2 separate regions of the Homo sapiens genome follow, and region 1 is linked to region 2. The links come from fine-mapping of genetic effects on gene expression. A gene starts in region 2. The other region holds a variant in brackets. All regions are shown on one strand. Distances are from middle to middle.

Region 1 (16,457 bases), 24 kb after region 2:
GAAGCCCCAAACACTTTTTGCCAGCATGCTATTGATATCACAAGAAGCAGTATTCCATGGAACACCCACTGGGGAAGCACTGGATTAAATAATCTCTAAATTTACTTCCAGTGCAAAATTCTGTAACTCAAAAACAAGACATCCTCACTCCATTTTTACATTGGTCACTCCCTCAACAAGAATTGTTAAAGATATTGGATACTCAGGGCTGCATTAGGCATTATGGATATGGGGGTAAAAAGGCAGGAGACAAGTACCATATAGGCAATTACTATTTAATTATTTTATGTTTATAGTAAAGCAAAAGCAAAATACAAATAAATTGCATTTTATTATAAGAAAGTAAAGTGCAAATATGCCGGATATGTGGTTACATCCCTTTGTTGCCTCTATATTTTTAAATGATATGCTTATACTGCTATTTTTCATCATTTTTAAAGAAAGTATTGATTTCTTACTACGATAGATAAGAATTTAGTTCTTATATACCTCTCTAACTTCCTTCTCTCTTCTTCTCAATATAATTATAGCTGTTTTCTAGTTAATTTAAAATCAGTTTACATAAGAATAGCATACTGTGGTTATATTTCCTTTTATGTACGGATTTTTATTTACTCTGAAGTTAATAATTGCTTACTGGGCTGGGTGCAGTGGCTTATACCTGTAATCCCAACACTTTGGGAAGCAGAGGCGGGCAGATCACCTGAGGTCAGGAGTTCTAGACAAGCCTGGCCAAAATAGTGAAACCTCATCTCTACTAAAAATACAAAAAAAAAATTAGCTGGGCATGGTAGTGCACACCTGCAGTCCCAGCTACTTGGGAGGCTGAGGCAGAAGAATCGCGTGAACCTGGGAGGCAGAGGTTGCAGTGAGCCAAGATCACACCACTGCCCTCCAGCCTGGGTGACAGAGCAAGACTCTGTCTCAAAAAACAATAAAAGTAATAATAATAATTGCTTACCGTTTTTCTTTTTGTACTATTTAAGCCTTTATCATATATTTAATATTTTCCAATCTCACTATCATATGAAATCCTCCTTTTCCTCCCAAAGTTCTCCCTCTTGGAGCTCACTTCTTTCTGTTCTAATTCTTACTAATGCTTTTAAAAATGACATCTTTTCTGTGATTCGCTCCAATTGATATACTTCTTATAGAAACACATTATGGCTTTCTTCTTAACTTTATGTCATTTAGACAGCTATGGTGGCATTAACAAGCCACATTTGTAGCTAGTTTCTTGTTTTGGAACATACATTGTGTAGTCATTGAAATTATCCACAAAGGAAATGGTGCTCTTAGGAAAGTACTCCCATTATCCAAAATAGAACCATATTAAGGAATAATTTGGCCTTTTACTTTTGGCTTGACACATTGCAAATGTTCACGGAATAGTAGTATTTTTAGAACTTGAAGTGACCGTTAGAGTCCATCTAGGCCAACTCTCTTCAAAGATTGGTAGATTAAGGGACAAAGAAGCTAAGTGATTTGCCTAAGGGTCATACACCTGTTTGAAGACAGAACTGAGACTAATCTCCAGATACTCTCACTCCTAGTCAACTATTTTTTTTCACTCGTGACACTACCTCATTATTCTAGTAGTCCAGCACTTGGCTGTGACAGATAAAAAGAGAAATTAGCCACATTAGCCAAACTGATTTAAATTAACTTTAAAATACCAGATAAAATGTGTTATTAGGTTTAAATGTCCCAGACCCTAGTCTCATGGAATTTACATTCTATTTGGAAAGACCAAATAGATTGGCCGGGCACAATGGCTCATGCCTGTAATCCCAGCACTTTGGGAAGCCAAGGCAGGTGGATCACCTGAGGTCAGGAGTTCGAGACCAGCCTGGCCAACATGGTGAAACCCTGTCTCTACTAAAAAATACAAAAATCAGCTGGATGTGGTGGCAGGTGCCTGTAATTGCAGCTACTTGGGAGGCTGAGGCAGGAGAATGGCTTGAACCCAGGAGGCAGAGGTTGTAGTGAGCCGAGATCGTGCCATTGCACTCCACCCTGGGCGACAAGAGCGAAACTCCATCTCAAAAACAAAATAAAACAAAACAAATAGATCTACATAAAAACAGCCTGGGCCAGGCATAGTGGCTCACGCCTGTAATCCCAACACTTTGGGAGGCTGAGGCGGGCGGATCACCTTAGGTCAGGAGTTCAAGATCAGCCTGGCCAACAAGACGAAACCCCATCTCTACTAAAAATACAAAAATAGCCAGGTGTGGTGGCGCACTCCTGTAATCCCAGCTACTTGGGAGGCTGAGACAGGAGAATTGCTTGAACCCAGGAGACAGAGGTTGCAGTGAGCCGAGATCAAGCCAATGTACTCCAGCCTGGGCAACAGAGCAAGACTCCATCAAAAAAAAAAAAAAAAAAAAAAGCCTGAAAAGAATTATGGGCCAAACTGCAAAGAGCTACTTACACAAATAGTTCACAGAAAGGAAAAAGCCTTATAGGGAGGCAGGATAATATAAAGATTAGGAGAATGGGTGTTTTGGTGTCAGACTAACCCAGTTTGAGTCCTATTTTTGCCACTAATTAGCTGTCTGATCTTGGGCAAGTTACTTAACCTCTTTGAGCCTCAGTTTTCTCAACTGTTAAACGTGGATAAAAATAGCTTTTATCTCATGGAGTTGTCAGTTTTGTAAGATTGAATAGGATAAAAAAAAACATGTCAAATTCCTGGCACATTGAATGCACTTAAATATTAGCCACCACAATTATTTATATTGGAACAGTGAGAAGACCAAGCATGTTTAGAGTAAAAGGTTTATGCAGGGAACAATTTATTCATTCAATAAATGCTTACTAAGAACTTATTAAGTGCCAGGCACTATTCTAAACAAAGTTCTTGCCCTCATGGAGGTTATAGTCCAGCTTGAGGAGACAGACAATAAACATAGAAACCAGTAAGTATATGACAGGTAGTGATGAGTACTATAGAAAAATATAGAGCAGAGTCAGGGGAAAGGGAAGTGACAGTGCAGAGTGGGAGCTGATAAGGAAAGAACCTTTTGATAAATATGACATTTGAGCAGAGATCTGAAGGAAAGTATGGAGTGTGCCACGCAGATAGTTGGGGTAGGGAGGGGAAATGTTCCAGGTAGGTGGAGAACAAATGTGCTGCTGCCTGGTGTGTTTGAAGACTAGCTAGGAAGTTAGTGTAGCTAAAATGTGTGAGCTAGGGAAGAGAGAGTAGTATTGACACCAGCAGGATATTAGATCATGTCACATCTTGAAAGCCAATGTAGACTCTGGCCTTTTATTCATGGTAAAATGGGAAACCACTAGACAATCTTTTTTTTTTTTTTTTGAGACAGAGTCTCGCTCTGTTGCCCAGGCTGGAATGCAGTGGTACGATCTCGGCTCACTGCACCCGCCATCATGCCTGGCTAATTTTTATATTTTTGTATTTTATTTTATTTTTTTTTGAGATGGAGTCTCGCTCTGTTGCCCAGGCTGGAGTGCAGTGGCACAATCTTCGCTCACTGCAAGCTCTGCCTCCTGGGTTCACACCATTCTCCTGCCTCAGCTTCCCGAGCAGCTGGTACTACAGGCGCCCGCCACCATGCCCGGCTAATTTTTTGTATTTTTAGTAGAGATGGGGTTTCACCATTTTAGCCAGGATGGTCTCTATCTCTTGACCTCGTGATCCACTCTCCTCGGCCTCCCAAAGTGCTGGGATTACAGGCGTGTGCCACTGCGCCTGGCCAATTTTTGTATTTTTAGTAGAGACAGGTTTTCACCATGTTGGCCAGGCTGGTCTCAAACTCCTGACCTTGTGACCCGCCCGCCTCGGCCTCCCAAAGTGCTGGGATTACAGGTGTGAGCCACCATGCCCACCCACACCACTAGACAATCTTAAGCACAGACGTGATAATGATTTGGCTTCTATTTAGGCTCTATCTTTTATATTAAGAAGAGACTGTAGAAGGGGAAAAGTAGAAGCAGGGTAACCAATTAGGAGGCTATTGTAGAAATCCAGGTGATAGATTGTGGTGATTTAGACCATAGTAGTAGTCATGAAGATGGTTAGATGTGGTCAAATTCTGGATCTATTTTGAATGAAGAACCTATGGAATTTGCTGACTTGGATTGGGTCTGGGGAGTGAAAGAGGAGTTACGGTTGTCATCAACAGCGGATGAGGTCCAGGTATGGGAGATCTTGACTATTTTTGGAGATCTGTGAAAGGATTGCATGCAGCGGAAGTCGCAGCAGAGGTTAAGAGGATTCATCTGGATACATATGGAAATGGGAATGTGAAGCCAGAGAACTGAGAGTTTGTTATTCAGTCCTGAACTAGGATGCTGCTGGTGGGAATGGAATGGAACAATGACATTTTAGAGTGATTTGATAATTTTACAGTAATTTAATCTGTATAAAGGGCTTAGTGCTTGGCAGAAAGTGTATTAGCTATTTTTTTCATTATGGAAAGAAACCAGCACAGGTAACTAGGTGTGTAGATGGTGGAGAGACAGGGAGAAAGTGAAAGGAAAGAGTCAAGGATTCTCCTAGTCTATATAAACACTGCCTCTTTTGAAGGCACACGTTCATCTGCTCCAAGGGCTAAATTTTCCCTGCAAAATACAGACTTTGGTTCCAACTTTCTCATGCTGTCTTCCCCCTGGTGTGGCAGATAAATATGTTAGTGGGGGTGCATGTGTATATGTATGGGAAAATGATCAGTGACAAGGTATTGGGATAGTCATTCAGGGAGAGAGAGTCAGTGAGGGTGTTAGAGGTAGCTGAAGGAGTGGAAGGGAGTTAGCTAGTTGAAGGAACACTGGAGGACTGTCGGGGATTTGGGGGATTAAGTAAAAGGTTTATAAGGAGAGGGTGGAAAGAGTGGTTGATGGCTGATATTCTGATCATTTATACTAGCTACTCAGTCTCTACTTTTTCTAGAAGTCCCCAGTAACCAAAGCCCAACACATTTGGTATCGTTGATTCCTTCCATTGTTTGCTTTGCTTTGGGTTGCCTAAGGCTGTGGTTATCTCTGAGCCACCTAAATTCTCACCCTCAGCTGAAATCACTACTGTCTCTTCATGGCTCTCAGTATATTTCAATCCTTCTTCAGGAACTGGAGCTTTTGAGAATAAGGCAACTTTAGGATTGACCCTAGGACAGAAGCTCTGCTCTCAGGATCCTTGTATGCTCCTGAATATGAATTCCATAGTATGATATTTGGAGCTCCCCAGATCCTTGTAGGCATATGTGTGTGTGTGTATTTGAGGCCAAAAAAAAAAAAAAAAAGTCCCTACCTCCCCATGTCACTGAAGTGAACTCCAGAATATGGACCTAGATAATTTAGAGTCCCTGGACATGAATGATAGGACAATATACTCTAGGGCTCTGATTTTCCATATCACCTTGACAAATCTCCTTGACAAAACATGGGCTTGCCTCACCTTCTCAACCATCCCCACCTTCTCAAATACACACACTACATCTATATCTTTACTAGTTTCACAACAGCATATCTATTGATTAAGATATATTTGGTAAAGAAAAACACTCATTTTGAGAAAGATGACTTCAGACCATTCTCTTCCTCTCTCTGGGCCTTCTCTTTGTGGGCATGATGGGAAATGAACTACAGATACTCTGCAAGGTCCCTTTCATCTCTAATCTTCCAGAATTCTATGACTGTTTCTGAAGAGAGGAAGCAGTTTTTAGAAGTTCTGTTGCAACCTGTAGTGACTCTGTGGTGACTCAGTAGGCGGGTTGAATTTCTGTTGAGATGGTAAGAAAGAGGGAGGATTTTGTTTATTTATTTATTTATTTAATTTATTTTCTATAATGATGTTGACACCATAAAGCAAGAATTTTAGAAGGTTTGGAATGAAGGGGCTGAGGAAGGAGTCTGTTCCTCTTGCCTGAGGGTTGTTTGTGGCTGGTAGCATAAATACTCAAAGCTAATGGGAGATACATGGGAAATACCTGTTGTTGGGAACAGTCTTTCTCCACTTGAATGAGGTGAGCAGATTGTGGAGGTGAGCTGGAGGATTTCATGTTTAAGGTGGATTTCTAACCTGCTTCTCTCATTTCTCCCTGAGTTTTATGACCCTTGACACTTTACAGAACACCTCCCTAAAGTGGTGAAAATGAGACAAGTAGGCTGTACTTTCCGAGTCACTTTTTTTGGAAGTAGGTGGCATATGAATAATAAATGTATTGCTCTGAAGACTCTGTCTTGAGGCCTGTTTCAGTGTCCTGAGCTTCATATCAGCTACCTGAGTTTGTGTCTGGGCCAACTTCTTATACTGGCATGTTCAGTAAACATTTAATGAAAAGAATGGCTTTAGTTAATGCCCTTTTCTAAGCCTTCTTTTTCCCACTTATAAACTGTTAGGGATGTACAAGACTCTTTTTTAAGTTACTTCTGGCACTGACCTTCAGAATTTCTGTCACAAATGCAGGGAACTGCCTGGATAAATTCTCTACATTTCTGGGAGAAGTTAGGGGAGAGGAGGAACTGGCCTCCTCTCCTTTGAAGATACTAGGTGGTCAGATGGGAGCAGGGGTTCTTGCCTTATGGCAGCCCCACATTTATAACAATTAACTCAGAAGGCGTGGAGTTGAGGATGGGCCTTCCCCCACTTCCTGGATTTGGTTTGGGAGAGGTTGGGCACTGGTAATGATCCCCGGTGTCTCACATCTTGAACCTCTGAGAATTCAAGACTCTCAGTTTCAGTCCTTAGAGGTCATTTGGTCCAATTCCCACACAAATCAGGAATTGTAGTACCAATATCCCAATCCCTAACAATCCCCATAAGTTATCATTCTGATTCTGGGTCATTCTCATTCAATTCCTACATCTCTACCTTAATACTTACTAGTTGGGCAAGTTACCTCACCTCTTTAAACCTCAATTTTCATGTCTGTAAAATGGAAATAATAAGTCCTGTGACATAGATTGTTGTAAGGAAGAATTGGAATAATCTATATAAAGGGCTTAGTGCTTGGCAAAAAGTGTATTAGCTATTTTTATTATTATGCCAAAACCCTATACCTAAAACAGGTAACAGCGGTGCTGATCTGGTTGGAGCATGGATGGGAGGCCTAGAGCCACATTCTGTAGGCTTCTCCACCCTGTTACTGTGTTCCCTGTGAGGTGTGTGTCTGGAATCCCTAGGGATTTGCAAAGCTCAGTTTGAAAACCCCTGATCTAGTCCAGTGTTCTTGTTTTATAAATGAAGTGATACTGAGTCCACAGTCTCAGGTTCCTCATATGATGTGGCTTCCTAAACAACCATGTCGGTCTCCCCTGGATATACTTTAGTTGGCCAATATCTCTCATTAAGTATTCCAGCTATGGTCTGACTTGAACAGGGTACTATTACCATTCTTTCACTTTACATATCTAAGATTATATTAGCCTCATTGACAGCCACACTCTCCA[G/C]TCAGTTTATAATCTCTCATAATACTTAAGATTTTCCTTTTCTTTCTCTCTTTCTCTCTCCTTTTCCTTTTTCCTCTTTCTCCTTTCATTTCCTTCCCTTTCCTTCCCTTGTTTGTCTCACTCTGTTGCTCAGGCTGGAGTGCAGTGGTGCAGTTGTGGCCCACTGTAGCCTCAAACTCCAAGGTCCAAGTGATCCTCCCACCTCAGCCTCCTGAGTAGCTAGGAGCACAGTCATGCACCAACACAATCAGCGAATTTTATTTTTATTTTTATTTTGAGACAGAATTTTGCTCTTGTTGCCCAGGCTGGAGTGCAATGGTGTGATCTTGGCTCGCTGTAACCTCTGCCTCCTGGGTTCAAGCAATTCTCCTGCTTCAGCCTCCTGAGTAGCTGGGATTACAGGCACACACCACCATGCCCAGCTAATTTTTTTTTTTTTTTTTTTGTATTTTTAGTGGAGACGTGGTTTTGCCATGTTGGCCAGGCTGGTCTCAACTTCCTGACCTCAGGTGAGCTTCCTGCCTCAGCCTCCCAAAGTGCTGGGATCACAGACGTGAGCCGTTGTGCCTGGCCAGCTTGGAATTTTGAATTAGAGAAGGTACAAGAGAAGACTGCAAAATCTCAGATATAGGAGGGCCTTGGACTACCTATTATCTCTTTTTGGGATATAAAGTTTTTAGAACAGCCCTCTTCTAGGGTTCTAAGGTCTGGTCTACTTATGGTTTTACTATCATGGTTTATTATCATGGTTACCTTATGGTTTTACCATCTTGGAGCATCATTATTTTATTTAAATAAAATAAATACAACCCTGAAACTATTCACCCTGGAATACTTTACACACAGAGTTGCCCGTACAGAAAACATCTCTAGAGCATATGAACACCTGCATTTCTAAGTGTGATTTTTTTGACCAGAGACTAATTTTTGAAACCAACGTTTGCTTCTTTTTGACCATGATATTTTAATACATGAAAATCTATCCAAAGGAGCAGTCACAGAGGGTTCTTGTTGAACTTTAGTTTCTGAGCTGCTTTTGAGGATGGTTACTTGAGGTGTCCTCCAAACTGCCACATATAGTGAGTTAGAGAATCTGCCAGGCACAGTGGCTCATGCCTGTAATCCCAGAACTTTGGGAGACTGAGGAGGGAGGATCACTGAACTCAGGAGTTTGAGATCAGCCTGGGCAACACAGGTAGACCCCATCTCTATAAAAAATTTTAAAATTAGGCCAGGCGTGGTGGCTCACACCTGTAATCCCAGCTACTCGGGTGGCTGAGGCAGGAAAATCGATTGAACCTGGGAGGCAGAGGTTGAAGTGAGCCAAGATCATGCCACTGCACTCCGGCCTGGGTGACAGAGTGAGACTCTGTCTCAAAAAATAATAATAATAAATAAAAAATTAGCTGGGTATGGTCATGCATGCCTGTGGTCCCAGATATTTGGGAGGCTGAGGTGGGAGGATTTCTTGAGCCTGGGAGGTTGAGGCTGCAGTGAGCGGTGATCGTGCTACTGCACTCCAGCCTGGGTGAGACCCTGTCTCAAAAAAGAAGTTAGGGAGTCCTAATACAACATCTGGATTTGTTAAAAATCTGTCTAGTTGTTTTCATATGATGGGAAACAAACTGACAGAAATCTAATTTTATTTATATGGATAGCCATGCTGTACTTGCTAAGACCACAAGAATAGGCTCAGAGAGAGGGGAAAGTTTGTGTAAATTATACATTGAATTAGGGGTAAACAATCTAGTCTGATGACTCCATATTCAGAGCCAGGGTTTCCCAATTTTAGTTTATGTAAATAATTACCTGAGGATGTCGTTAGAAATCCAGATTTCTGGACCCTATCCCAGACTATTGAGTTAGAATCTCCAGAGGATAAGACCTCTGACTTGTATTTTTGTAACCTCCTCAGACAATTCTGATGTTGGGGGGAGGGACAAAGTACCATTGAAAAATTATTTAGATTAATAACCTTAAACTCTTAAAATTATATACCTAAAAGAATTTTGAAAAATTATGTAACTCTTGACATAATGTTCATATCTAAAAATTTTATCATAAGATTTAAAAATTGCAAAAAATCGAATTTCCAAAACATTTTACATATTATATACACACATATATATATATGCACATATAGGTTATACCTCTTTCAAAACATTGGCACTGCAAATTTAGCTCATATAATTTATAGAAGACATCTACCATACAACCTGTTTTGCATAGCCAGTTATCACCCAACATAATCAGCCAAATCAGATCTACTGTGTTAGAAATTGCCTAACTTCTTTCTTAAGATAAATATGTTAATATATGACTCTGTGATAACTGTTTCACTTCTGAGTTGTAATTCTAAGAGATATAAGGCAAGTAGTCTTGCCATGAGTTTGTTACGTGGATGAATTAAGATGCCAATTCTTTCAATACTGATTTCTCAGAGAAGCTCTCATTGATTTGCTTTCTTGGGGCTCTCCCTCAGAAGTTATACATTCTCAAATTGTCCCTTTGTTTAACACTTTGTTCATACCCTGTCATTGTACCATAATAAAGTTTGAGATAAGAGAGAGCTATGACATTCTTGTTTAACGTGGGAGAAGGGTAATTGTAAAAGAGAGTGAGAAAGAAGAACCAACTCAGACAGATCATTGTTAGGAAATATTACATATGGAAGTTGAGGATCTAGACATTTATTCTCTTCATATTTTTCTGTGCAGGTACTCACAGGAATAGAGTACCGTAGATTGAGGACTAATGATTTAAACTGCCTTTGACCTAGATAATAGAGAACCATTGTAATGAATATTTTTGCATGTGTCTATTATACTTGAGAGACTTGATGTACACATAAAATGATGCCCCTGGATTTTCTTTCCACTTTCTGTTTCTGCTCTAGGCATATTCCTCTTTTGGGCTGCATTCCAAATGCTCTGCCCTCATTCACTTGTTATAGGTAAGGCCAGCATGGGACACAGGATGGTAGGAACAAGTGTGTGATTCCCCTCCTGTAAGTAGGCATGTAGGCAGTGAGAAAAGAGAAGAGGTACACAATCCATCGGGCACCAAAGCCACTTTGGCCAAGGGGAACATGCAAAAGGTATTTGGATCAAGGCCTGAAAATAGCTGGCAAGAGGACAGGGTACAATAATAGCCCAGACTGCAGGGCAGGAGTCCCATACTCTGAACCTCAGCTCCAGGGTTCTCTTCCAGCCTCTTCACAGAGTCCCAGACTGAGCCCACTGTAGGATCTCAAGAAACACTTCTTGACATGATTCCAAAATCCATTCCACAAATTCCACTCTTGTCTTTCCTCTGCCTGTCCAGCATCTATCTTGTTTATCTGTATCCTATCTTATCCCCTCTCCTTCCATACTTTCTCTCTTTGATCATCTTGGATCCAGCTGGTCATATAAGCAGAGATAAGTTTGTTCATTTATTTATTCATTCTTTTATCTATTCATTTTACAATTATGTATTAAGTGCTCACTGTGTATTGGCCTTTGTGGTAAGCACTAAGGAGAAAACATATAAAAAGATATCCTGTCTGCCATTAAGGAACTCATAATCCAGTGAGGGAAACAGATGTCTACATAGGACTCTAGTGCTAGAAAAAAATAAGTGCCCAAGTGTTGTCTTTAGAAATAAACAGGCTGGGCGTGGTGGCTCACGCCTGCAATCCTAGCACTTTGGGAGGCCAAGGCGGGCGGATCACTTGAGGTCAAGAGCCTGGCCAACATGGTGAAACCCTGTCTCTACTAAAAATATAAAAATTAGCCTGTGGTGGCGGGGGCCTGTAGTCCCAGCTACTCGGGAGGCTGAGACATAAGAATTGCTTGAACCCGGGAGGCGGAGGTTGCAGTGAGCCGAGATAGCACCACTGCACTCCAGCCTGGGCAACAGAGCTAGACTGTCTCAAAAAAAGGAAAAAAAAAAATAGAAAGAGGCAAGAATGAATGAATGAATAGTGCTTAATCTTTCTAATGAATGAATAGTTACAACCTTTCTGGAAAGGAAGGTTTGTAAAGATGTCTGTATTTTCCAAATTAATCTGTACATTTATTGCAATTCCAATCAAAATTGCAATTATATTTTTTATTGAGATATAATTTATACCATATAATTCACCCATTTAAAGTATACAATTCATATTTTTAATATATTTGCAAAGGTGTACAACTTTCAATTTTAGAAAATTTTCATCACCCCCAAAAGAAGTGCAATACTCATTAGCAGTCATTTTTCATTTTCCCCCAACTTCTTCTCCTCCAGCTCTAGGCAACCACTAATCTACTTTCTGTCTCTAAGGCTCTGCCTTATTCTGGATGTTTCATATAAATGGAATCATATAACACGTGGCCCTTTGTGTCTGGTTTCTTTCACTAAGCATAATGTTTTCAAGGTTCATCCATGTTATAGGCCGGATGCAGTGGCTCATGTCTGTAATCCCAGCACTTTGGGAGGCTGAGGTGGGTGGATCACCTGAGGTTGGTGGATCACCTGAGCTTGGCAGTTTGAGACCAGCCTGGCCAACATGGTGAAACCCCATCTCTACTAAAAATATAAAAATTAGCCGGCCATGGTGGTGCATGCTTGTAATTCCAGGTACTTGGGAGGCTGAGGCAGGAGAATTGCTTGAACCCAGGAGACGGAGGTTGCAGTGAGCCAAGATCATGCCACCACACTCCAGCCTGGGCAACAAAGTGAGACTGTCTTAAAAAAAAAAAAGTTCATCCATGTTATACCATATATCAGTACTTCATCCTTTTACATTGCTGAATAATGTTGCATTGTATAACTGTATCACATTGTGTCCGGAATTGGTGGGTTCTTGGTCTCACTGACTTCAAGAATGAAGCCGTGGACCCTCACGGTGAGTGTTACAGCTCTTAAGGTGGCACGTCTGGAGTTTGTTCCTTCTGATGTTCGGATGTGTTCGGAGTTTCTTCCTTCTGGTGGGTTTGTGGTCTCGCTGGCTCAGGAGTGAACCTGCAGACCTTCACAGTGAGTGTTACAGCTCATAAAAGCAGTGTGGACCCAAAGAGTGAGCAGCAGCAAGATTTATTGCAAAGAGCAAAAGAACAAAGCTTCCACAGTGTGGAAGGGGACCTGAGCGGGTTACCACTGCTGGCTGGGGCAGCCTGCTTTTATTCTCTTATCTGGCCCCACCCACATCCTGCTGATTGGTAGAGCCAAGTGGTCTGTTTTGACAGGGTGCCGATTGGTGCGTTTACAATCCCTGAGCTAGACACAAAGGTTCTCCACATCTCCACCAGATTAGCTAGATACAGAGTGCCAACACAAAGGTTCTCCAAGTCCCCACCAGAGTAGCTAGATACAGAGTGTCAATTGGTGCATTCACAAACCCTGAGCTAGACACAGGGTGCTGATTGGTGTGTTCACAAACCTTGAGCTAGATACAGAGTGCCGATTGGTGTATTTACAATCCCTGAGCTAGACATAAAGGTTCTCCAAGGCCCCACCAGAGTAGCTAGATACAGAGTGTCCATTGGTGCATTCACAAACCCTGAGCTAGACAGAGGGTGCAGATTGGTGTATTTACAATCCCTTAGCTAGACTTAGAGGTTCTCCACTTCCCCACCAGACTCAGGAGCCCAGCTGGCTTCACCCAGTGGATCCCGCACTGGGGCTGCAGGTGGAGCTGCCTGCCAGTCCTGCGCCGTGTGCCTGCACTCCTCAGCCCTTGGGTGGCCGATGGGACTGGGTGCCGTGAGCAGGGGGCGGTGCTCGTCGGGGGGGCTCGGGCCGCACAGGAGCCCACGGTGGGGGTGGGGGAGGCTCAGGCATGGCGGGCTGCAGGTCCCGAGCCCTGCCCCGCGGGAAGGCAGCTAAGGCCTGGCGAGAAATGGAGCGCAGTGCTGGTGGGCTGGCACTGCTGGGGTACCCAGTACACCCTCCGCAGCTGCTGGCCCGGGTGCTAAGCCCCTCATTGCCTGGGGCCGGCAGGGCCGGCCGGCTGCTCCGAGTGCGGGGCCTGCCAAGCCCACGCCCACTCGGAACTCCAGCTGGCCCGCAAGCTCCGTGCGCAGCCCCGGTTCCCGCTCGGGCCTCTCCCTCCGCACCTCCCTGCAAGCTGAGGGAGCCAGCTCCGGCCTTGGCCAGCCCAGAAAGGGGCTCCCACAGTGCAGCGGTGGGCTGAAGGGCTCCTCAAGTGCCGCCAAAGTGGGAGCCCAGGCAGAGGAGGCGCCGAGAGCGAGCAAGGGCTGTGAGGACTGCCAGCACGCTGTCACCTCTCAACGTTATCACATTTTTTTCTTTCTTTCTTTCTTTCCTTCTTTCTTTCTTTCTTTCTTTCCTTCCTTCCTTCCTTCCTTCCTTCCTTCCTTCCTTCCTTCCTTTCTTTTTCTTTCTTTTCTTTCTTTTTTGTTTTTTTTTGAGATGGAGTCTTGCTCTTGTCGCCCAGGCTGGAGTGCAATGGCATGATCTCGGCTCACTGCAACCTCCGCCTCCCGGGTTCAAGCGATTCTCCCACCTCAGCCTCCCGAGCAGCTGAGGTACAGGCACTGGCCACCACGCCCGGCTAATTTTTGTATTTTTAGTAGAGACGGGGTTTCACCATGTTGGCCAGGCTGGTCTTGAACACCTGACCTTGTGATCCACCCGCCCCAGCCTCCCAAAGTGCTGGGATTACAGGCATGAGTCACCACACCTGGCCCCACATTTTTCTTTATTCATTCCTCAATTGGTGGACATTTGGGTTGTTTACACTTTCTGATGTCATGAATAACGCTACTACAAACCTTTGGGTACATGTTTTTGTGTAGATGTATGTTTTCAATTCTCTTGGGTATATAGCTAGGAGTTTAATTGCTGAGTCATATGGTAAGTCTATATTTAACCTATTGAGGAACTGCCAGACTGTTTTCCAAAGTAGCTGAACCATTTTATATTCCCGGCAATGTATGAGGTTTCCAATTTCTGCACATGCTTGTCAGCACTTGTTACTGTCTGTTTGTTTGATTATGGCCATCTTAGTGAGTGTGAAGTGGGATCTGATTGTTATTTTGATTTGTATCTCCTTGACCATGCCTGACCTTTTTTTTTTTTTTTTTTTTTTGAGACTGAGTCTCGCTCTGTCGCCCAGGCTGGAGTGCAGTGGCACAATTTTGGCTGATTACGACCTCTGCCTCCCAGGTTCAAGAGATTCTCATGTGCAGCCTCCCAAGTAGCTGCGACTACAGGTGCGTGCCACCATGCCCGGCTAAATTTTTTTTTTTTTTTTTAGTAGAGATGGGGTTTGGCCATGTTGGCCAGGCTGGTGTCGAACTTCTGACCTCAGGTGATCCTCCCACCTTGGCCTCCCAAAATGTTGGGATTACAGGCATGTGCTACTGCACCTGGCCCATTAACTGCCTTTTGAAGACTGGCCGGTACAGTCCTGGCTCCCTCAATAGGTGAGGAATCAATGTTTAGGGAGAAATTTCATAAATAGTCCACTGATTGAGGCTATTTACTCTAGTTTCATCAGTTTTGAGTTGGTGAAAAGCCCGTCCAAATTTGGGTGATAGGATGACAGTTGATTCCAGTTTTTGAATCAGGAGCTGAGTGAGGCTGCATTAGGGTCTACAAGTTAGATATCATTTGAAACCAGAAATCTGTGGTGTTTTCAAAAGGAACTTTTTCTAAGGAACTAAGGGAAAACCAAACAGAATGATGAATTTCTGTTAAGTACACTAAAATTCCATCCTTGGTAGTTGTCAACCTCACAGTTCTCAGAGTTCCTACATTTTTATTTTTTTCCTTATGCTAATTCTGAATTTGGAAACAATACCCCCCTTTTGGAGGCCATGTCATTTAGGAGGAGAAGGCCCTGAACTAGACATTTAGACTCAAGAACTGTGCTATCCAACATGGAAGCCACTAGCTACATGTAACTATTGATATTTATAGTAATTAAAATTAAGTAAAATAAATAATCCAGTTCTTCCGCCACATTTCTAGTGTTTGATAGCTATATGTGGCTAGTGACTACCATTTTGGACAACAGTGCTTTAGAATAGTGTTGCTACTAATTTGTAAGTAACCTTGAGGTCATCACTTTCTATTTCTGTGCCATAGGTTTCTCAATGGTAAATAAGAGTGGTGAGTCTCAAAAGTACCATCCTCTTCTGGAATTCTTTCTTTTTCTCTTTTCTTTTCTTTCTTTTTTTGACAGGATCTTGCTTTGTTGTCCAGTCTAGTCTCTAACTCCTAGCTTCAAGTGATCCTCCCACCTCGGCCCCTAAAGTGTTGGGATTACAGGCATGAGCCACCATATCTGGCCCTCCTCTGGCATTCTGAGTAATCTGTGGTTCAGTTTTTGGGGTGTGCCTCCATCTACCTCCTCCTTCAGCCCTTCTTGATACTTACTGCAGCTAGGGCAGAAGCACCCAGAGGGAACATTAGGCTGCTAATTAGTCAAGGTACATTGCTCCCATTCCCTGGTGAAAGGGAAATTGACTTGTGGGTATACTTATATCTTGAGTGCTCCACAATTGTGCAGTGCTTTATGGATCACAGAACTCTTTCACATTGTTTTTTCATTTTATAGAATCAAAGAATCTCAAAGTTGGAAGGGCTGTAAAGGTCATCTCAAACTTCAATAACCATGAATTATATGGGGAGCTTATGCAATGAAAATTTCAAGGCCCCACTCCCTGGAGAATAATCTAGTAGAAGTAGGTGTCAGGGTTACCCTGGCCCAACCTGAACAATCCTGTGCTGCATGGGAACTTGGTACTGCATTATTAACACTATCTGACCACTCTTTGAGAAACACTGGTCTTGCTTGGTCCCCAGCCATATTGTGGAGGCTGCTCTTTGGTATCGCTACAAATCCCAGATTCAACATGATATCTCCAGGGTCAGGAAACTCCTGAAGGAGTGCCTTCCATCTTTGGACATCTCTAACAGAAAGGTTTTTTTTTTAATATGGAGCTCTCCCAATTGATGTAGATTTTCCATTTATAGTTATACTACATTAGTCTACTTTTCCCCATAATGATCCTTTAGATTCATGCATTCATTCAGCAAAAATTTACTGA
Region 2 (16,457 bases):
TGCAGGGTCTCTTCCCTGAGGGCCCCTGGTGCGGACTCCCGGAAATCAATTAGGTGGCTCTCATTTCGTCGGATGTCATGTACCAGCATCACGCCCCCACTGGGAGAGACACAGAAGGGGAAGTGTGATGATAACATGCTACCCCTCTGTACAATGAATCTGCTGCCCCTCCACCCCCAGTGGTGAGAGCTGTAGGCTCAGTTTTTCATTTGGGGTCAGGTGTCTGAGCTCCCTCCCCAGCATGGATTCACAGACTCAGCCACCCTAAGAGGATGGGAGCAAAACCAAGAGGGTTGGAGACCCAGGGTCCATGGACCTCTTCTATCCTGTCACTGGAGACTTTAATCCCTGATTAGGAAAAGCCCAGAGACTGGCAGAACAGGATGTTCTGCCCCATGCCCCCACCCTGGACCAGAGCTGGACCCCTGCCAGCTTCCTGCACCTGTCTACTTGGTATGTCCCTTGCCCCTCCCCCAGGACTGGATTATGTAAGGATAGAACATGCAAAACCAAAAGAGGAATTTCTTTGGTACGGCTTGGAGAGCTGGTCTTACAGGAGCCAAGATAGGAACTTTGTCAGCTTGTTCCTTTTCTGTAGCTTATTTACGTCTAAGATGGGGGCTGCAAACTTAAATGCCCACAGCCAAATGACAAACTAAGGCAAGCAGGACAGAGAAGAGGAAGTGGTAGAAACTACGGCAAACTGGACAGTGCATGCCCATCATGGGAAGCAGCTTCTATTCCACGCCAGGTAACTTCAGCCATGTGAGAATGCGGGCCCAAGTTGTTATCGGATTTCCCGATTGTTCAAGAGATGTTGGAAATCTGGATTTTTATGAAAATTCTCAACTTTTTAACAAAAGCAAACAAAATTTTAAGACAGTTCAGTGTCTAAACCAAACCAGTCTGTGTGCTGGGTGTTGCCCATGGGTGGCCAGCTTGTAACTTCTAAGAGTTCTTAGTGCAGGGTGTATTTTTGGAGGACAGAGGGTGCAAGGCTTTTCATCAGACCCATAGGGATTTATGATCCTAGAAGTTGAAATATCTCTGCCTTAATTGATGACAGTATACCTCCACCTGTGCATCTTAATTTATGGTTTACAAATTTCTTTTTCTAGTTAAAAAAAAAAAAAAAAAGCTTCTGAAAACACTTTCAGGTTTTCCATAAGGTAGCTTTGCTCTTCTGACTCCATCCAGGGAGAAGGGGGTGAAATTTGGTGTAGAAAGAGAAAATGCAAGGAGTTGGGGCCCAAAAGCCCCTCTCCCTAAGTTAGGAGTGCTGCACATGAGGCCTACAGACCTGGAGGCAAGAAGTAGGCCTGGGGGACCCCGACCTCCACTGCTCCTTACCCGCCCAGGCCAGAACTGTGTGGAGCCACGATACCCAAACACAAGGCTGCTGCCACCGCTGCGTCCACAGAAGATCCCTGTTTACTGAGCACCTCGATGCCCAGTGAAGTGCAGCGGGCAGCATCGGTCACCACGGCACCCTGCTGGAAGATCTGGGAGGGGAAAGAGGACTTGGTGGGGGCAGGAGGAGCTGTCCACCTCCCTAGGGCACCTCCACTAGCCCTAGAACTCTACGCGGCATGAAGGTCGAAGCCCTGCCCCCTTGTTGCCTTGACTCTGCCCTCATTACCCCAAGTGCCTCCTAATGGATCTGTCCTTATTCTTCCTTGTTCTGTCTCCCTCATGCCCTGGAGCTCCTCTCTTTGGGACCTTCCTCTCCCAAGTCACCACCCTCTCTCCCCTTCTACCACTCAGCCATTCCCCAGTTTCCACAGTTCCTCAAACATTACCCCACTCCCCACTCCCCAGTTTCCTCCCCCTCCCCATTTGTCCCCCTCACCTGGGGGTCCCCGAAGTAGATCTGCATGACCAGCGCCACGGTGACACCGGTAGCGAAGGTGAGACAGGCCGTGACGATGACCGTGAGCCCATCCTGGCGGCAGGAGCACTCGGCCGCTGCGGCGGAGAACGGGTCTTTGCGCGTCTCGCGTAGCGGCGACCCGTCTTGGCTGCCCATCTCCGACGACGACGATGGCAGCCGCTGCAGCCGTGCAGACTTCAGGAAGGAGTCCGGGTCTGCGGGCAGGCAGCCGGGGTCGGTCTGGGCATCTCCTATCTGGCCCTGCCCACCCTCCAGGTGGGACTATTCAGCGCTTTCCCTGCCCCGCCCCTGCCACACAATCCCCGCACTGGCTAGCACTACTCACCTTTCCTCATTTTCGCGTGCACCCCAGGACAGGCGGGGCAACGGTGCCCGGCTAGGAAGAGACAGGGACCTCCCCAGCTGGGCAGCAGGGAGGCTGGATTCCCGCCCCTCCCTGATACCTAGGCCAAATTTCCTGGCACCCAGGGCCCAGGGCTGAGAACACTTCCTGGGGGGTGGGGTGGGGGTTCCAGCCCTCAGTGGAAATCGGATCCTGCCCCAGTTGGGGCCCAGCCTTCCATGCAAGGAGGCAGCTACATAAACAGAGTGGAGGGACCCTGCCTTCCAACCTCACTTCAGTTATCAGCTCACTCATTCCTTAAATATGGAGAGCCCTATGCTAGGTGCCAGGGGACGGGAACAGATAGTTCCTGCCCTCATGTGGTTCATAGAGCCCTGGAAGAAAAAGCCAATAAGCAAAGGAGTCTATAATTACAAGTTGTGGCAGGTGCTATGAAGAAAAAGGAGGAAATGACAGAATAATGGTGGTAGGGGAGGGAGGATTCCTTAGCTGCAGAAATCAGGGAAGGCCTCTCAGGAAGTGACTTTTAAGCTGAAAACTAAGGGATGAGAAGGAGCCAGCTATAATGTAGAGCAAAGAGTATGTGTGTGGAATGTTCTGGAAAGAGGGAACAGTGGATGCAAAGGCCCTAAAGTGGGAATGAGCTTGGCACATTAGAAAAAAAAATAACCAAGGCCTGGGCGGCTCTGGTGTAGCAGGCATGGGGAAAGAGTAGTAAGGGTGGAAGCTAGGCCAGATACATACTGAGCGCAGTGGCTCAATCTTGTAATCCCAGCACTCTGGGGGGCCGAGGCGGGTGGATCACTTGAGGTCAGGAGTTTGAGACCAGCCTGGCCAACATGGTGAAACCCCGGCTCCACTAAAAATACAAAAATTAGCTGGGCATGGTGATGTGTGCCTCTAATTCCAGCTACTTGGGAGGCTGAGGCATGACAGTCACTTGAACCCACAAGGTGGAGGTTGCAGTGAGCCGAGATCGCGCCACAGCACTCCAGCCTGGGTGACAGAGTGAGACTCTGTCTCAAAAGAAAAAAAAAAAAAAAGGAAGATATGTGGGGCTCTACTAGCCTGGGGAGAAGCTTGGGTTTTACCCTAAGGACTATGGGAGGTCACTACTCGAGAGGCTATTTTTGTTTGTTTTTGAGATGGAGTTTCGCTCTTGTTGCCCAGGCTGGAGTGCAATGGCACAATCCTGGCTCACTGCACCCTCCGCTTCCTGGGTTCAAGCGACTCTCTTGCCTCAGCCTCTCCAGTAGCTGTGATTACAGGCACATGCCACCATGCCTGAGTAATTTTGTATTTTTAGTAGAAACAGGGTTTCAGCATATTGGCCAGGCTGGTCTCGAACTCCTGACCCCAGGTGATCTACCTGCCTCAGCCTCCCAAAGTGCTGGGATTACAGGTGTGAGCCACCGCACCCAGCCCACTACTAGAGAGTTTTAAGCAAGAATGTGAAACCATCTGTTCTGTGTGTTATTGTTGTTGTTTGAGACAGGGTCTGGCTCTGTCACCCCAGCTGGAGTGCAGTGGCACCATCTCAGCTCACTGAAACCTCTGCCTCCCTGCAACCTCTGCCTCCCAGGCTCAAGCCATCCTCCCACCTCAGCTCAGCTTCCTGAGTAGTTGAGACTACAGGCATGCCCCACTACACCTGGCTAATTTTTGTATTTTTTGTAGAGATGGGATTTCGCCATGTTGCCCAGGCTGGTCTCAAACTCCTGACCTCAAGTGATCCACTCACCTCAGCCTCCCAAAGCGCTGGGATTACAGGCATGAGCCACTGCGCCCGGCCTGTTTTGTGTTTTAAAATGATCCCTCTGGCTACTGTCTGGAGACAAACTGGAGGACGATAAGAGTGGAGGTAGGAGAGAACTGAAAGCTCACTATTTGCTGGTGGCTATGGACAAGTCAGTCAAGTCATGCACCTCACCTTCCTCATTCTAGTAATGGAACTAATCCCTAACTGGTGGGATAGGGGTACAAGGATTCCATGAGGTGATGTGCACCCAGTGCACTGTAGGTACTCACTCCAAGTTATTTCTATTCCTTTTCCACCTTGACCAGGGCTGAGACCCTCTTCCATCCCATAGCTCCCTCCTCTGAGTGTTATTAGCTGTGAACCCAGGTCCCTAAATGGCCTAAAGGTCCTAGGTGTTTGTGAACAGTAAAGAAATAGTCTTTACTTTACCTTGACCTCATGCTGTACTCACAATATGTTTTTTAAAGTTTATTCATTCAATTTTTTTAGTACCTGCTACTATGCACTAGGACTATAACCCCTTTAAAAGTCTATGTGATAATATTAAAAACTGACCATTTTATTGTTCTGTTTAAAATACGTGGTTCACTGATGCCAACATAATAAACATCTAAGCTCCTTGTGGTGTTTAAAGACCTTCATGATCCACAGTCCCATCTTTTGTGTAAATAAGAAACCAAATATATAGATAAAATGATGATATATGCAAGAAATGTTTATAAATTATTACAGAAGTTACTCTTGGGAAAGGATACTGAAGATGGGAATGAGATGGGGTGGGAGTTTTTTTGGTTTGAAATTTTTACCACTTATATCTATTTCCTTTTTAGAAATCAATACATAAACCGGGAGTGCTCGTGCATGCCTGTAAGCCCAGCTATTCAGAAGGCTGAGGCAGGAGATCACTTGAGTCTAGAAGTTCAAAGCTGCAGTATGATTGCAATATGAATAGCCACTGCACTCCAGGCTGGGCAACATAGATAGACCCTGTCTCTAAAAAAAATTAACACATATATTTTGAAATGAAAAGGAAAAATTACAGGGAGATAGGAATGGGAAAGGGGACTTTTTTATTCTTCCTCACTATTGCTTTTTTTTTTTTTATCATGAACATGTAATTTTTGTTTTTGTTTTTGTTTTTGAGACAGAGTCTCACTCTGTCGCCCAGGCTGGAGTGCAGTGGCGCAATCTCGGCTCACTGCAACCTCCATCTCCCAGGTTCAAGTGATTCTCCTGCCTCAGTCTCCTGAGTAGCTGGGATTACAGGCACATGCCACCACGCCTAGCTAATTTTTTATATTTTTAGTAGAGGCAGGGTCTCACCATGTTGGCCAGTCTGGTCTTGAACTCCTGACCTCAGGTGATCTGCCTGCCTCAGCCTCCCAAAGTGTTGGGATTACAGGCATAAGCCACCGCACCCTGCTGTTTTTAAACTTTATTTTCAAAAAAAGGTTATCTTCTGAGACTCTCCCTCACTTCATAATGCTTGCCTCTAACCCTCAACATCAGCATCACAGAGTCTGTAAATAAAACTGGAATTCATCCAAACAAACAGACGTTAAACACCCACTGTAGGCACAGAACTCTCCTTGGCCCCTAGAAATGTCTTGTTGTTGTTGTTGTTGTTGTTGCTGTTGCTGTTGTTGTTAATAGAGACAAGGTCTTGCTATGTTCCCCAGGCTGTTCTCAAACTCCTGAGCTCAAACAATCATCCCGCCTCAGCCTCCCAAAGTGTTGGGATTACAGGCGTGAGCCACAGCACCCGGCATTAGAAGTTTCAAAAGAAGTGTGGGAAAGGGTTTTGAACTTATATTTATTGATGCTGACTACATATTAAGCATTTTACATATATTCCTTTATTGAAGTGTTCCCAAGACTTTATGAAATAAGTCCCACTCTCGCCACTTTACAGATGAGAAAACTAAGACCAAGAAAGGTGATATTGCCCATCTCAGGTCATAAAATGAGTAAGTGGGCCAGGTTTGGTGGCTCACGTCTGTAATCTCAGCACTTTGGGAGGCCGAGGTGGGAGGATTGTTTGAGCCCAGGTATTCAAGACCAGCCTGGGCAACATAGCAAGACTCCTGTCTCTACAAAAAAATTTTTTTAATTAGCCAGGAATGGTGGTGTGCACCTGTTGTCCCAACTACTCGAAAGGCTGAGGTAAGAGCATCACTTCAGCCTGGTAGTTCGAGGCTGCAGTGAGCCACTGCCCACCAGCCTGGGCGACAGGGTGAAACCCTATCTCAAAAAATTTAAAGTAAAATATAAAATAAAATAAAATGAATAAGTGGCAGGACCAAGAGTCTGTGTAACTAGAAAGCCTCCTTCCCATTGCTCCACATGGCATCAAGAGCCATTTCTACCCTCAGAAACCAACCTTACAAGCTAATTTTTGTTGCTATTTCTTGGTACTTATTGCTTTGTTTTTGAGAGATAATCTTCCTGCCAGGCTGGAATGCAGTGGCGCAATCTCGGCTCACTGCAACCTCCGCCTTTGGGTTCAAGCATTTCTCATGCCTCAGCCTCCCAAGAAGCTGGAATTATAGGCATGCACCACCATGCCCAGCTAATTTTTGTATTTTTAGTAGAGATGGGGCTTCACCATGTTGGCCATGAGGCTGGTCTCAAACTCCTGGCCTCAAGCAATCCGCCCGCCTTGGCCTCCCAAAGTGTTGGCATTACAGGCGTGAGCCACTGTGCCCGGCCCTAGGTATGGTTTAATTTGTTTTCTCCAGTCAGATATAAGGATCCAGGAGGTAAAGGTGACATGTCCCTATCATAGCTATTCAAGACTCTCTACTCCACCAGTCCATCATAAAGTTATTGATTTATACAATAAAAATATTTACTGAGTACCTACTATGTGCACTGTGGAACAGCTAGGGCAATAACAGTGTTGATTTTACTGATAGGGAAGAGCAACAGCAGGATACTGGAAAAAGATTAATTTGCAACCAGAAGGAATAAGTCTTTTGGGAGAAAGATGACAAGTTCAATTTTGGTTATTATAAATTTGTGGGACACCATAAGAAGCTGTCTGGAGGCAGTTGGCCTAGTAGATATCTAATTTTTACCTTCAGGGCTCATCCCTGGTATCTGCTTGGATACCACTTCTCATTCAATTTTCTTTTAAGGAACATTCTCTCTCCTCTCTCAGCCAACTCCCTCATCCCTGACCAAAGTATATAACTCAGACTTGGCCAGTCAGAACAGGTACCTCTGTGCAGTAACAGGCAATGTGAACAAAGCCAGGCCAATAAGACCCAAACTTTGTTATTTTGCTGGAACTACTGGGAAAGAGAAAGGCTCCTCTTTCTATTACACTTAAGTTGCTAAGTTGGTAGGATGTAAGCCTGTAGCTGCTGGGGGCATCTTGCCCCTAATAAAATGGGAGGCCTTCTGCCAATGAAGCCCACCAAAAGAAGGCAGAGCAAAAGATGGAGAAAAGTCCATTCCTTTTTAGGTACCTTAATCCAGCTATGCCTGAAACCCCATATCCCTGGACTTTTCAGTTATGCTACCCAGTAAAATTCTCTTTTTGGATGTAGCTCAGTTAAACTGGGTTTATAACAAAATAATCCTGAACAAAATTGATTATACAAGTCCAGAGTTTAGGAGAGTGATCTTGGCTAGAGGCTAGGGTCATCCCTGGCTTGTTGTTTATTCCCTTAAGGGGAGAATCACTAAAATAAATAAATAAATAAATATATATATATATAAAATTTTGAAACAGTGTCTCACTCTGTTGCCCAGGCTGGAGTACAGTGGTATAATCTCAGCTCACTGCAGCCTCAACCTTCAGGGCTCAAGCCATCTGCCCACCTCAGCCTCCCGAGTAGCTGGGACTACAGACAGGCATGCACCACCACACCTGGCTAATTTTTGTATTTTTTCTAGAGACAGGGTTTCACCATGTTGCCCCGGCTGGTTCTGAATTCCTGAGCTCAAGCAATCTGCCCACCTTAGCCTCCCAAAATGCTGGGATTACAGGTGTATGCCACTATGCCCGGCAGAATCACCAAAGATGTCTGAACCAGGGAGTGACATGACCAGAAGCGATGGATGGATTGGGGTGGGGACTGGGCAAGAGGGAGGAGGCAGGAGGAGTAGCTAGAAGCCTATAAATAATATTGATAAGAGAGGTTGGTGGCTTAGTCTACAGTGGTGATGACAGGGATGATGAGTAGGAATTTGGAAGATACTTAGGAGGGGTGCAGAGAGCACTTGATCACCATTTGGAAATGAGAAGAAAAGGAGGAGTCCAGCATGCCATTCATTATTGGGAGACTGGGTGACTGGCAGTGTCATTAATGGAGAATGGCAGTGGAGGAAGAGCAGGTGCATGGGGAAGGGATATGATGAGTTCAAAATAGAACATGCTATAGATGAGGCACTTGCAGGACATCTGGAGACACAGGCCTGGGAGAGAAAGGAACACAAGGGCTTGGAGCTCAGAAGAAAGAAAGTATTTCCCAACCTTGGAATGATCACTGTCTAGCTCTCTTTCCCACAGAGCCTGATGTGGGGTGCCTGGCACTTGGGTTTAGGGAATGGCAGGCTAGAGGCTAGCTGGGCACAACCAAGGTCCTGGCTAAGAGGATGGTGCTGTGCCACTAGATGGTACCACCAGGTTGAGAACACAGGAGGCCATGTCAGCCTGTAGTCTGGTCCAGGTGAACCGAGGAAGCCTTGGGGCTTGGAAGTAGGATTGGGAGATATGGCATTCAAATGATTACACTGAAATGATGGCAACACACAAACCTGACACATAAATTTGGCATAAGGTATAAACTCCCAGAAGCTCAGATGACTAGGATCTCTGCTGGATTTCCATACAGGGGTGAGGGCAGAGCCTGTATTGAACTTCCCAAAATACTCCCTGAGGTTTTGGAACTTGCTCTCTCCTACCATTCTTTCATCCTCTCTCCTACCATTCTTTCATCCTGAGATCTTCTCTCTCATGCATTTATTCATTCAACAATTATTGAGTGCCCAATAAATAAATAGAGATGAGGGTTTTTTTTGTTGTTGTTGTTTGTTTGTTTTTTTGAGACAGAGTCTCACTCTGTTGCCCAGGCTGGAGTGCAATGGCGCGATCTTCGCTCACTGCAACCTCTGCCTCAGCCTCCTGAGTAGCTGGGGTTACAGACACCTGCCACCAGGCCTGGCTAATTTTTTTTTTTTGTATTTTTAGTAGAGATGGGGTTTTGTCATGTTGGCCAGGCTGTTTTTGAACTCCTGACCTCAGGTGATCCACCCGCCTCAGCATCCCAAAGTGCTGGGATTACAGGTGTGAGCCACCACACCGGCCAGTGTATTTTGTTTTGTTTTTTGTTTTTTGTTTCTTTTTGAGACTGAGTCTCACTCTGTCACCCAGGCTGGAGTGCAGTGGAGTGATCTCGGCTCACTGTAACCTCTGCCTCCCCAGTTCGAGTGATTCTCCTGCCTCAGCCTCCCGAGTAGCTAGGATTACAGGCACCCACCACCATGCCCAGCTAATTTTTGTATTTTTAGTAGAGATGGGGTTTCACCATGTTGGCCAGGCAGGTCTTGAACTCCTGACCTCAAGTGATCCACCCACCTCAGGCATGAGCCACCGCGCCCGGCCTATGGATAAGGTCTTGATGCTGGAGAAAGGAGAGTGAACAAAACAATCATGATCCCTGCCCTCATGGGGCTTACAGACAGGGAGTAATCAGATAATTGCACAAATAAATAATCATAGATTTTGGTAAATGCTAAGACATTTACAGAGGGCCAGAAGAAAACATGTCAGGCAGTTCCAATCTCTAGGTCAAGAGAGACAGGCATTCTCTGTTGAGCTGGAAGAGGAAACTAAGGCCCAGGACAGGGTAGGTGTGCCTGTTGTCGCTTGGTGAGTCAGGGCTGTATTAGGACCAGAAGTCTCACTCCTGACTACTGAATAAAAGGCCTAGCTTCAGGCTGATATCCATCATGACACATCTTCCCACTCCTCTCCCTGCTACCTCCTGATTCCACTCCCTTTGGAAAATAAGTTTTGATCCGCAGCCCTGACATTTGACGCCCATAAACCTCTAAACTCCATCTTCATTATCTCCTCACCCCCACCCCATACAGAGTGCAGTCCAGTCAGGTTGGCAAGGGCTGCTGGTCAGGGCCAGATGACCAGAAAGTGTAGAGGAGGAGAGAATTTGGGGCTTTCAGGCTGGGAGCAGCTAGGGAAGGGCCAAGCCGGAAAAGCAGCATCTGCCAGGCTGGTAAGAGACAAGGCTCAAGTGCAGGCACTGCGAGGAAGCGAGAGTGAGGTAGAAGGATGCTCTAATGCCAGGAAGTGACGTGCAGGGACAGAGGGATGGGGGATGAAGGATGAAGAATGGAGGGGAGGATGAAGCTGGGCCACATGGCTAGGAGGAAGAGCAGCAGGGAAGGAATGCACAGAGAGCTCTTTGCCCCCAGGTCTCTTCCAATCCCTGTCTCCTCCTTCTCTTACCCCCACTTCTCACAATTCCAGCAGAGGGCTGAGGGGAACACAGTAAAATTCTGGAGACTGCTTCCTAGGGAGCAGAGTACCTTACTAATACCCCGGCCAGATCCATGGCTCAGGGAGGGGTGGGGTAATCCACAGGAGAGTGAAGGCGTTCTAGTCCCCAAGGACTTTTGAGAGGTCATGCAGTCCATGCCTCCGTCTCCCAACACCCAACAGAGGGGAATCATATTCTCTTTACCCCTCCCTAGACATGAAGAGATTCTCCGCTTCTCCCAGACCCTCTGCTTCTCACAATCCCTGGCTGTGGGGAACTTCTCTTAAGGCACAGATTGGATCCCTCTTGCTGCAGTCTCTGACTTGGTTTCTCCTATCCTGTCCTCTGTGGCTAGAGAAAGCCCTCTTCTGGGTGATCACAGCGGTTCCTTAGGATCTCCCCTTCAACATTCCTTCATCGTTAGTTGGTTCTTCCCAGAAGGTAAGCCCAATCCCTTCTACTGCAGTCCCTAGCATCCTCTCCGTTGTCGCATCCTACGCCTCCAAGGCAGAAATGCACCCCCTTCCTCACCAAATAATTAACAGAGACAAGGGAGAAGAAGGGAGAGATCCAAGAAGATGGGGATGAATTAAGGAGATGGAGCTGGAGGTGGATGCTTGACACAGAAGAAGGAAGACCGGGGACTTCCCAAGGCAGGGCAGGGACGGGGTCAGCGGGCCTCACCGGTGTCGGGGTCTCCCAGAAAGGCGTCCTCGTCCTTGCGGCCCCTCAGCGGGGCCGCGGGCGCCGGCTCGTCCTCGGGCAGCCGCGGGAAGCTGGTGATGCTCATGTAGTCCACTGGCGAGTAGGCGCCCAGGGCGCTCTCCTGGCTGGCCTCGTTCTCCGCCGCCATCCTCGCCCGCGCCCCCCAGCAGCGCAGCGCCTGCCGGAAGTGGCTGCGGCGGGGGAGTGGGAGGGCGGAGGGCGGGGCCTGATCTTCGCGACAGCCGGGAGGGGGCGCCTCTCCCAGCCCTCGGCCGTGTCCCGGTCTGACTCGCCCCCGTCTGCTCAGCGCTATCAGCCTGCAGCTGGCACACAGGTGCGTGTAGATGGACAGCCAGGAAGGCAGCGCAGGGTCGAGGGGAGAGCGCGGGGCAAGCGAGACTTCAGTGGCTCTGCACTTTACGCAGCTCAGGGACCAAACCCCTTCCTCCTTCCAGCCTGAATACAGCTAGTGTCCTCCTCAAATCCCAGGCTTCCTTTTCGGGCCCCAGACCCTTTCACTGACCGCAAATCCCTCTCGACCCCAGATCCTGTCTCTGACCCCAAACTCCTCGGACCCCAGACCCCTCCTTGAATTCCGAGATCCTCCTCCTCCGATTTTAGACTCCTCCTCCGACCTTAGACCTCTTTTTCGACTTCAGACTCTGTCTTCACCCCCAAACCCTTTTGAAAACCCCAGCCCATGCTTCATCTCCAGGCCTCTTTGACTGCAGACGCCTCTTTGGACAACAGATCCCTCCTCTGACCTCAGATCCCTTCCCGCACCCCGACACTTCTGACTCCTCTTTCAACCGCATTCTCAAACTTTAGTGTGTGTTAGGATCTTTGAAAGCGGATCCCCAGATTCCACTCCAGAGATCATGATTCAGTAGGCTGGGATGAGGTCCTTGGAACCTGAATATTTACCATCATTTTAAGAGTTTTTGATGTGGTTCTGGAAAGGACACTTTGAGAAAGAAGGAGTGGTGGTAGTGATGGTAGGGCAGGAGTGGGGCAAGGTGGGGAATAGGTCTCCATATTCTGGATGTCTGGGTTCTATTCTGCCACCGCTCAAACACTGTGTAATCTTGGGCAAGACAATTAGTCTCTCTATCAGTTTCCCCATCTGTGAAATGGAAAGAATAATAGTACCCATTTTAGAGGGTTGTCATGAGGATTAAGTAACAGAATGGAAAGCGATTAGTATAGGGCTTGGCACCTACTCAATAAATGGCATCATCATCATCATCATCATTGCCTTAATCTGGTAGATTCATTCCCTCCAAACTCATCCATCCTCTCTCCACTCCAAAATTCCAACCACACTACAGCTTGTACTACTTCTCCATATCCAAGGATGAGGGAGGTTCCTTCTTTTACGAGGTCTCTGTTCCAAACTTTCATTGTGAAGTCCACAGGAAGAGAGGGGGGCTGGTGAAGCCTCTATACACACATCCTTTCTCTTCCCAACCCCAGACCAGTCTCAGGGATGGCCTGAAGTGCTTGAAAAATCTACTATATACACAGCAGCTGCAGTAGCAACTATAGACAGGAGGGGGAAGCAGTGTGTCGGGAACAGCTCTGGGGTTTGGGTGTAGGACTTGGGAGAGAGGATAGGAAGGAGAGGGCTACTCAGAGCTGTGTGGTAAGAGTGCCCAGGGAGGGTAACAGTCTATCACCAAAAAGTGTACCCATTGTCTGTGCCTTTCCCCACCCCAGAGAGTTCTTATCTCCTCAGTGATGTTTGTAGGGTCTATTACACTACCCTGAGGTCTAATCCCTCTGGTGGGACCCTTCCCCACTTGATGAGGTCTGCACCTTCTCAGTGATGTCCACTCCCACAGTGTAGTTGGCAGCTCCTCACTGGAGTTTGAGTCCTCTGGTAGGGTCCACGTCTCCTTAGTAAAGTCTATATCCTCTGTATCTCTTAGGGGAAATCCATGTCTCCTCACTAGGGTAAGTGCCCTTCAAAGCCATTCATGTCCTATTAGCAGGGCCCAGGGCCCTTCAGTCAGATCTGAGAACCCCCAGCAACATCTGTGCTCCCTTAGTGGAGTCCATGTACTGTCAGTGAAGTGTGTGTCCCTTCGGTGCAGTGAATATCTCCTTTATGAAAGTATCTGACCCCTTGGTGGGGTCTATGTCCACCCCAAGAGGTCTGTACTCCTTCAGTGGGCCCTCAGATTCCCGCCCTCCTTGGGATTGGGCAGACTCTCGGTCTCCCATAGAGAGATTTTTTTTCAGCTTAGGGTGTGCAAGGTTTACAGTCAGCTGGGCAAAGTGCAGGGAAGTAGCTGGGAAGGGAGGCTGGGCTAGATGGGGTCACAAGGCCTGTGTAGGCTTCAGGAGGTGGGAGCTGCCCGCTTCAGGCCTCAGAATCACTCTTGGAGTTAGATATTTAAGAATCCTTCCTGCCTTGACAGCCAGTCTGTGAAATGATGGTGAGGTGGGCACTTCTTTGTGGTGAGTGCAGGTGAGAGATGGAGGAGGGTCCTGCCTGACTTCTTTCTGGGGTGGAGGGGCTAGAGAGAAGCTAGAGGTAATTAAGCCCAGGTTGTGGTGGTGGTGGTGGGGGTTTCCCTTGGTGGAGTAAAGAGATTGTGAAGGAAAGAAGAGAATGTGGGCCAGGTGTGGTGGCTCACGCCTGTAATCCTAGCACTTTGGGAGCCCAAGGCGGGCAGATCACCTGAGGTCAGGAGTTCAAGACCAGCCTGGACAACATGGTGAAATCCCATCTCTACTAAAAATACAAAAATTAGCTGGGTGTGGTGGTGTGCACCTGTAATTCCAGCTACTCGGGAGGCTGAGGCAGGAGAATTGCTTGAATCCAGGAGGCAGAGGTTGCAGTCAGCCGAGATTGTGCCATTGCACTCCAGCCTGGGCGACAGAGCGAGAGACTCCATCTCAAAACAAAAACAACAACAAAAAAAGAGAATGTGAATGATTTTTCCTATTTGCACAGACTTTGATATTTTACAAGCCTTAGCTTCAAGCCTGACGAGGAAGTAAAACCAAATCTGGAGTCAAAGAACCTAGCTTTGGCCCTAACTTGGTCGTTATTTGCTCTCTGACTGTGCACCAGTTCCTTCCCTTTCCTGGGTTTGCCATTTGTGCAATTAGGAGGTGGGCTTATTACAAAAAACCTGAAGGTGTCTCCTAGTCTTCACTTATTGAGTCTTGTACTTTAGATCTGGATGGAGATTTGTGAAGGCAAGGAGATTGAAGACATGTCCTCATAAGAGGGAGAAAATCTGAGCTGGTTCCAGGGTGAGCAGAGAGGAGGTGCTGTCGCCAGAGCATGCCCTCAAGGTCATGGGAGAAGTTTTTCCGGAGGACGAGAATGTGGGTGTGGCTCAGAGAGGGGGGACCTGGAGGGAAGGGTGTCACCTGGAAGGAACTGGTGATAGTCAGGACTGTGCAATCAGATCACGGGGCGGCTCCGCGATGGACCTTACTCAACTCCTCTCCTTAGTCCATCCCTTTCCCTTTCGATCCTTGCCTTAACCCAACCCCTTATCTGTCACTCCAAGACCCCACCCCACTCTGGTCACTCCATGGCTCTGCCTCCTCTCCTGTCACAACCAGCCGGGTTACTCCCCATCACTCCATGGGCCCACCTCCTCTCCTGTCCCGCCTGGCCCCGCCCCTCCCTTGGCACTCCACGGTTCCACCCTCTCCCTTGTCACACCCGGCCCCGCCCCTTCTGCTTTCACTCGACGGCGTCACTCCTTCCGGCAAGTCAGCTCCACCCCTATCCCTCGACTTTTCCTTATAGTATTTCTGTCCTTGCCAACCTCGATCCCTCCCCAACCAGACACGGCCCCGCCCCCTCTGGCACCGCCCACCCGCCAGACTAAGCCACTCCCCCACTCACCAGGCCCCGCCCCTCTACGGAGGCCCCGCCTCTAGTTCGGCCTGTTTTCTCAGTCCCGGCACCCGCCGCGACCGCAAAGGCGGCCGCGGTTCTAGGAACTTGACGTGATGGGGCTTCCTGAGGAGCGGGTCCGGAGCGGCAGCGGGAGCCGGGGCCAGGAGGAAGCTGGAGCCGGAGGCCGGGCGCGGAGTTGGTCTCCGCCGCCCGAGGTCAGCCGCTCCGCGCACGTCCCCTCGCTGCAGCGCTACCGCGAGCTGCACCGGCGCTCCGTGGAGGAGCCGCGGGGTGAGGCCCGGCCCGGGCGGGCCTGGGGTGTCAGTGAGGAGAAGAGTGGGGGCTCCCTGGGGGAGTCGGGGGCTCCCTTGGGAAGCTGAGGGGTGGGTGAGGAGATGGAGGTTCTGTGAAGGAAGAATTGCGGTTCTTTGAAAATGGAAAAGGGATTCCGGGAGGAGACGAGGGTTCCATGGGAGCTGGGGAGTTCCCTGCAGACTTGGAGGGTCCGTGGTGGAGATGCGGGTTTTTGCGAGGAGACGCGGGATTCCGTGAGGGAAGAAGTGAGGTTCCTTGAGATTGGGACGGGGAGGTCGGCCAAGAGAGTGAAAGTTTCATGGGAAGAGAAGGGGAGTTCCTGAGGCGAAAAGAGGGTCTCTAAGGGGCGACGGGAGCCTTGAAGGGAGGAGGGCCACGAATAGAACTTTCTTTGCTTCCCTTTCACACCAGCTCAGCCACTGCCTCCTGAGACCCTTAACCTGTGAACTGTTGAGGGCAATAACGGGTCTGGTTCCCATCTTGGGGTCCTCAGATTAGTAATGGAGTCCCCGATCTATTTTTAGTATATCGGACATCCTAATGGAAATTACGCGGTATAAGACTGAACGAGTTACTACGATGTCAAGTTGTTTTATTTATTTTTTTAACTTGGGCTGGGATTGTATTAGTAATAGTTCAGAAGTTCTGATAGATGGTTCCATGTCTGTTAAAATGTATGAGGAAAATCGGCCAGGAGCAGTGGCTCACGCCTGTAATCCCAGCACTTTGGGAGGCCGAGGCGGGCGGATCACTTGAGGTCAGGAGTTCGAGACCAGCCTGGCCAACATGGTGAAACCCCCGTCTCCACTAAAAATACAAAAATTAGCCGGGTGTGGTGGCGGGCACCTGTAATCCCAGCTACTCGAGAGGCTGAGACAGGAGAATTGCTTGAACCCAGGAGGCAGAGGTTGCAGTGAGCCACGATAGCACCACTGCACTCCAGCCTGGGCGACAGAGCAAGACTTTGTCTCAAAAAAAAAAAAAAAAAAAAAAAAAAAAAAAGGTATAAGGAAAATCCCCCTACCCTTGCCCTCAGTCTGGGTAAAGGACAGATAGATAGACAGATAGATAGA

Evidence for each region. PIP is the estimated chance that this variant, and not a neighbour inherited with it, causes the effect.
Region 1: its variant is fine-mapped to the expression of GGT7 in whole blood (INTERVAL, PIP 0.99).

The regions. Positions count from the first base shown.
Region 1 is chr20:34,885,698-34,902,154 of GRCh38, forward strand. The region is part of intron 2 of ACSS2 (acyl-CoA synthetase short chain family member 2); the gene reads left to right. Among named protein-coding and RNA genes, the nearest start is that of ACSS2, 17 kb to the left of the region's middle. The variant G/C (reference allele first, on the strand shown) is at 7,417.
Region 2 is chr20:34,861,464-34,877,920 of GRCh38, forward strand. GGT7 (gamma-glutamyltransferase 7) reads right to left here and starts at 11,393. Exons shown (of 15, transcript NM_178026.3): 1 at 11,184-11,393; 2 at 1,850-2,085; 3 at 1,351-1,502; 4 at 1-99. The coding sequence starts at 11,352. ACSS2 (acyl-CoA synthetase short chain family member 2) reads left to right here and starts at 15,149. Exons shown (of 18, transcript NM_018677.4): 1 at 15,149-15,360. The coding sequence starts at 15,183. RefSeq lists enhancers at 1,570-2,121, 14,368-14,447, 14,468-14,517 and silencers at 11,275-11,564, 14,788-14,927, 15,008-15,437.